Linked DNA regions of Homo sapiens. The protein of the gene in region 2 interacts with the protein of the main gene of each other region in a pairwise test. Each region holds a gene or a part of one and is shown on either strand. Other genes may lie near its edges.

Region 1 (3,827 bases), on a different chromosome or scaffold from region 2:
TTTTAAAACATTCTAATAAAGTGCCTAAGAAATCGTTCAGGTTTGAAGTAGGGAGGGAAAAGCAAGGAAAACAAGATCTTGTTGTTAGGCTCTCCAAACTCAATTTCAGAGCAATCCTGATGAAAGTCACAAAAAGTCTACCTACCACTGTCATTCATATCTATTTTATGCATAGATTAGCAAAAAAAAAAAGTAAAAATAAGTTTGCTAATTTACTCTCTGTCCTAAGAAAAACGTGTTTTGGGGAGGAAAGGCTGAATGTAGGCTTCTTATTCATAAATAGCGGTGTAAAATTAAACTGGACCCAATGTTGTGCTAGAACCATTTTAATATAATTATACATATCTGCCAAATCCAGGAAGAAAAGGTTTATGCATATATAACTTTTCCATTTAACATCTGCAAGCATAAACGACAATGATCTCAGTTTAATAATTCATCAGGGTCAGAGCAATTGACCAATGTCTCTTTACTGCTAGGCTTACCAACAGTAAATTACAGATGAATTAGTGTCCTTTTGCTTCTCTTCTCTGACTCTCTTTGTCCAGAGACATTTTGTCGTAAAGTTTCAGTGCAGCTCACCTCCAGCCAAAGGTAATCTTTTTAGATCAGTACTCAGTTGCTCTGAATTTTGCTTATAATTATAACCTATTTAATCACAGAAGAACCCCTGCAGAGGTGGAGTTCAAGGTTGCATACAATAACAGGAGATCACAGTTTTGAAGTCTAGCACAGATTAAAAACCACAGATGTACCATTTATAAGACACACACTGATTGTCTCTTAAACTACATATTGACTCCTTATGAACATTATTTTTTAAATAAAGTAGTGCATCTAGGACAATCAGTCACACAATTCACACAGCCCTGAAAAGTTTTTTCAGTGCCAACTACCAGTTGGTCATGAAACGTGAATGAGCTTGAGACACTGTTCATTCCTAAGATTCAACCAAGGATTGGCTAAAACAATGGAACACCTCTGCTTAAGAAGGCTATGACCTTCCCTCCCTTCCTTCACAACTTAGTTTTGTTTGATTTTATTTTTGGTGGTGTTTGGTTGCACATGGCTAGAATGCTTTTGATCACTTTGCAAATCAGGATAACCAATGATCTAAAACTATGACAGGATCTTAAGCAGATTGGTTTGTCCATTTCATGTTGCTGGTTTGTAGGCCCCTCTAAGGCCCTTCGTTTTTCCTTCTATGCCTCTCGGAACTTTGATCAGATGAGTCTGAGCATCATCCCATCTAACTCTTTTAACCAATGCCTGGCTAAAACTGGAATGTCCAGCCCAGTATATTTAAAAATCACCCACAAAAAGAGGTTCTACAGGTCTTCACAAAACCTGGAATTTCCACGAGGATGTCTGATCTTTATAATCCAAGCAGTCAGCATTGAAGTTAAGCTTCCAGGAGGCAGTTTGGTCCTTATAATCCAAGCAATCAGTGGTTGAGTTAAAACCCAAGCTTGAAGCTCCATATCCCTGGGTGGAAAGAGAAGCTGGGGACTGATTGAGATGGCTGGTGACTGCATTGGTACCCATGGGACTGAGTGTGGCCCCTGGTCCGGGAAGCTGGTGATGCATAGGGGTCAAATATGATCCACAGTCCATGCCCCCAAAGTAGGAAGTTGAGCCAGCATATCCTTGACTATAACCTGAAGCCTGAGTATAGGTCATGGGATAGGACCTCTGCATGCAGGAAGAGGAGGTGGACAAGGGATCTGACAGTGGGGAGATGGAAGCTGGGCTCCAGATAGACACAGGAGCACTGCTGCTGGCAATGGTCGGGACTGAGGTGCTAGAGGGGGGAGTGAATTGGCCACTTGTTCCACTCTCTGAACTCACTTCCCGAGCTGGAGATGTCTTCTTTTTGGCAGGTCTCACTTTGTTTTGACCTCCATTCTGCTGTTGTTGCTGTTGTTGGCGGCACTTAGCTCTTCGATTCTTAAACCATACCTTGGAAGGGAAAGAAAATTCTTTAACTCGGTTTTGATAGTTCCTTAAGGACAAGAATGGCTCCCGTATTATAAATCTATCCTACATGGGCAGATCAGCTAAACACACAATTTCCCCTGCCACTGAAGACCTATTATGTGGTACTCTCATATAAACTCCTGGACTTGTAAGAAAGTTGGGGAGGCTCTGTCTAAAAACACTTGACACTGTCTTATTTCTTGCCCAGAATAACATTTAAGATAATCCCCCAAATCATATAGCTAAAAACTCTCCACATCACTTTCCTATCTTATTTCGCCTCTAACACACACATACACATAGACCCAGCTATATTTTGGAACACTCTCACAGAGGAATAGAATGTATCTCTGTCTTTTGGAGGGAAATACATGAGAAGTGAGAGAAAGCAATTCTGTTGTTACAGGCTAACAGGAACAGCCTAAATTCATTTACAGTTCATCTTCCAGGAAGCAACTGCTAATATAGAGGTTGGTTGGTTCCATCACCCTTCTGTCTCTCTTAGAAAGACTCACAGAACAAAGCTCCAAGGGGAAGACATGATCTTGTTGAAGAAAGAGGTCTGAAAGCCACTATTTGCTAAAAGCTTCTTTGTGGTAAAAGGAGTGACTTACATGCACTCTGCTTTGAGCTGGAGCACAGACCTGCTAGTCTCTGGGACTCGAGTCTGTGTTGTTAGAGTAGTGCCACTCAGCACATAGACTCAGTCTCCTGTGCTGTGTTTACTGACTTACCACTTCAACCCCCTGCTGCAATCTTGACAATTCTCTTTACCAGCCCTGTTCATGTTCTGCAATGAAGGAGCTATGATTGGTGTACGAGGGGGCTTAGAAGAGGAACTACTGGCATTTTCTGGAGGACAAATCCTTAGCTGAACTTTTGAATGAGCTCTCTGTATGGGTGCCGTAACTGTGGTAAAAGTGAGGCCACCAAGGCCAAGCTCAAGACCACCAACCATTTGGAGCCATTTGTTTTCTCCTAGTGAGGACTTTGGTTCAAGCCTTGCAAGTGCTAAAACTTCCTCTAACCTACTTTGAAAAAGCCCCTTTCCCAATTTGCAGCTGACACTGATGTCTGTCGCTTTCATAAACATATTCTAGCCGAAGGAGAGGCCCAGGTGTGTATGTGGTTTATGTGCTAAACACTTTGCAGAGAATTCTGTACAGGGCTCACTCACAAGGCAAGCTGGAGTTGACCTTCCCTCTCCAGTTTAAGGTCAAGTTTAGGGGAACTAAAACAAGAGGGGTGTCACTAGAGACATTATGTAGATATTTTATCTGTTAAATGGCTCAGAACTAGAAAATTCTCTTCAATCCCTAAGAAGTCAAGGAAAATACATTCTTTTTGTGTTGATTTATTTGGTAAAAGCACCAGCTGCGTCTATACCCTGACTCTGCCACCAAACTTAGTTATGACCTTGAGCAAGTCATTTACTCTATTTTTTCATCTGTAAAAATACTTGGACTGTCCAAGAGCTAAGCTGCTTTCACACGTACAAGTCCATGAGAATAGGAGAGGATTTCTATACAGAGGAAGGGAAGGGTTACAACACCACGTGACTACTCTTGAAACCTGCTCAAGGATGGGTCTCTCTCCACCAGCAACCCGGGCCTTGAAGACCCTTGCTTACGGGATTAAGTGGTGACGGGCAGGCAAAAAAGGGCAGAAGGAGAATAGTTTCCTGGCCCCTTAGTGAGTGAAGGAGAATTTCAAGCCTTCCTTCAGTCCTCTGAAAGACCTGGGGCTCTCCACAGTCCCATACTCGGGAAGGGTGGCATGATCAGGAAGGATGGTTCTGCCTGCATCTGCCCTACCTGCACCCTCGACTCGGGCAAGTTGATTTTCAGTGC
Region 2 (3,179 bases):
AGGATTGCTTGAGCCCAGGAGTTTGAGGTTATAGTGAGCTATGATAGTGCCACTGCACTCTAACCTGGGTGACAGGGGGGTACGACCCTGTCTCTAAAAAGGTGGAGAGGGGGACCATAGCCTGTAGTCTCATGGGCAGGTGAGACTTGTACATACATACACACATGCCTGCAAAAAATTCCTGACAGCTTTAAATAGAAGAGAGTGACTATGTGTGCATAATATCATTGCACATATTTAAATTTCTACATAGGTATATAGGAAAATTCTCTGATAATTGAAAGACCAAACTTGGATGAATTTATAAACACAAAGAAATATGAGAGGCTCCAAATAAATATGCAAAGAGTAAAGGGAATGTGATTTTCTGGAATTAAGATATATTATGAGGTGAGTCTGTGATTGGGGCATTGATACCAAGACATCCTAATTGTTCAATCATACGATGACAGAGACCACAGGGTGGAAAACCACGAGGTGAAGCTACAAATGGTGAAGATGAAGGAACGTTTTTTCAAGAAAAGAGTGGCATCAGGTGCTAACACACACACACACACACACACACACACCTTGTAATCAGGGTCCACAGATTTTATTGGTCTTTGTAGAGAACCTACTCATTTGAGACTTAATCTTGTTTATCAATTTCTGTAAGCCCCGTTTCATGTCTTTGTTTCTTAAACTGTAGATAAATGGGTTCAACACTGATGTCAACACAGTGTAGTTGATTGTTGCTATTCGGTCCTTGACAGTATAGCTGGACAAAGGCTGCAAATAGACATAGCTAATACTCCCATAAAACAGAATCACCACAGTGAGATGGGAGCTGCAGGTGGAGAAGGCTTTGTGTTTTCCAGCTGCTGAGGGAATCTTGAGAACAGCGATGAGAATTCTTAGATAAGAGATGATGATACAGACAAATGGAGCCATCACAGAGGCCAGCCCTTCTGTCATGGCCACAATTTCATTGACAAAGGTGGAGGAGCAGGACAGTTTCAGCACAGGGTTGACATCACAAAAAAAATGATGGATAACATTTGATGTACAAAAGGTGAGCCGATTCACCAGGAGGACATGTAGGAGAGAGTGGAAATAGGAGAAAGTGATGGGGAATGCTAGTAGCAACACACAGCATCTGCGGTTCATAACAGTGACATAATGGAATGGGTTACAAATGGCTACACAGCGGTTGATGGCCATAGCCGCCAGGAGATAACTATCTATGTTTCCAAAAACCAGGAAGAAATACATCTGTGCCAGACATTCAGCATAGGAAATGGTCTTTTTCTCTGATAAGAAGTTCACGAGCATCTTTGGGACTATGACTGTTGTGTAGCAAATATCAGCAAAGGACAAGATGCTTAGGAAAAAATACATAGGGTTTTGAAGTCGAGGATCAGAGTGGATAGCCAAGATGATGAGCAGATTTCCCATCAAAGTGACCAGGTATATGATAAGAAAGAGGGCAAAGAGTGGCCTCTGGTCTTCAGACCGAGAGGAGAGTCCCAAGAGAATAAATTCAGAGAGTCTTGTCAGGTTGGACATTCCCATGGACTTGTACTCACCTAAAGATAAGCAACACTGTCAATTAATGACATAATTCTTATGTCATCTACAACATGCATCTTTCCACGTTGTTCTTACACTGAGTAGTTATTAATAGAGCATTTACTCTGTAGTTTATTTTTCTTCCTGAGCATGGAGAATCAGAACTGAAAGTGTGTTTTCACTTTTTAAAAGATCTTTGAGGTAGATACCTGTCTTAATCAGTTCAGGTTGCTATAATAAATTACCATAGCCAGGTCAGATGCGGTGGCTCATGCCTGTAATCCCAGCACTTTGGGAGGCTGAGGTGGGTGGATCACTTGAGGTTAGGAGCTCGAGATCAGGCTGGACAACATGGTGAGATCCTGTCTGTACTAAAAATACAAAAAATTAGCCGGGCCTGGTGGTGCATGCCTGTAGTCCCAGCTACTAGGGAGGCTGAGGCAAGAGAATTGCTTGAACCTGGGAGGCAGAGGTTGCAGTGAGCCAAGATTGCACCACTGCACTCCAGCCGGGGTGACAGAGCGAGACTTGGTCTCAAAAAAACAAACAAACAAACAAATCATAGACTAGGTGGCTTAAACAACATTTACTTTTCACAGTTCACGAGGCTGGGAAGTCCAAGATCAAGTTGCCAACAGATCCAGTGTCTGCAGAGGGCTTGTTTCTTGGTTTTCAGAGGGCTGTCTTCTCCTTGTAGTCTTGCATGGCAGAAAGCAGGGGGAGGAAGCAAGCTTTTCTTATAAGGGCATTAATCACATCAGGAGGGCCCCAACCCTCATGACCTAAATTACCTGTCAAATATCCATCTCCAAATGCTATCACATTGGGGATTAAGTGACTTCTGGGGGGACATAAACATTTAACCCATAGCAAGATCTATAGAGAACAGATACAAGGAAAGAGAGAGACAGACAGACAGACAGAGAAAGAGAGAAAGAGATTGGGAGCGAATGGCTGATAAGTTTCTCCTCCTACTTACTCTGTGGCTGGTAATTACAGGAACCACAGATAAAGACTTTGAATCAAGTTCAGGCCATCTTCTGATTAAGGATTCTGAGTGGCTAAACCACATCTAGGTAACAAGATAGTTATCTCACCTAGCTTGTAATTGATGAATACCTTTTCTTTTAAGTCCAGATGTTTCTTTCCACATCATTTACAATGGAAGCAAGAAACTCACTTAGAGAACACTGAGTTGAATGTAAACAGTTACAGGGAAAAGAAACACGGGGAATGAGAGAGTGAGGGGGACAGAATACTTTTGCGAGAAAATTCTCTCCCAAGCTTTCCTACTCTCTGGCTGATAATCCATATTCTGAGGTCAGGGGAATGTAATTCTGGAGTTGGCTAGGGTAAAGGAAGATCAGACTTTAGAGTATAAATACAGATAATCTACACTTAGGGTGAACATAAATTCGCTCTCTTATTTAATGTCCAGTAAGGACTAATTATTTCCCAGAGATCAGGTATTTCCACTTTCTCATCAGGCACTCGCTAGGTTGATTAATTAATTAATTAATTAATCTCTCATGGTATTTTAGACAATGAGCAGATGGATTATCTTAAAGTGTAAAATGATAGAATAAGGTTCTGGGGATCTATTACACAGCAGGTGACTACAGTTAATAAGA

What was found.
Region 1: the proteins of OR1L3 (region 2) and OTX2 interact in binary tests that used the Homo sapiens proteins (3 or more experiments, as listed by UniProt).

The regions. Positions count from the first base shown.
Region 1 is NC_000014.9:56,800,397-56,804,223, forward strand, and holds part of OTX2 (homeobox protein OTX2), read right to left. Parts: coding exon 3,792-3,827; intron 1,960-3,791; coding exon 1,339-1,959; 3' UTR 1-1,338. UniProt on the Homo sapiens protein: Transcription factor probably involved in the development of the brain and the sense organs. Can bind to the bicoid/BCD target sequence (BTS): 5'-TCTAATCCC-3'.
Region 2 is NC_000009.12:122,673,502-122,676,680, reverse strand, and holds OR1L3 (olfactory receptor 1L3), read right to left. Parts: upstream 1,552-3,179; coding exon 577-1,551; downstream 1-576. UniProt on the Homo sapiens protein: Odorant receptor.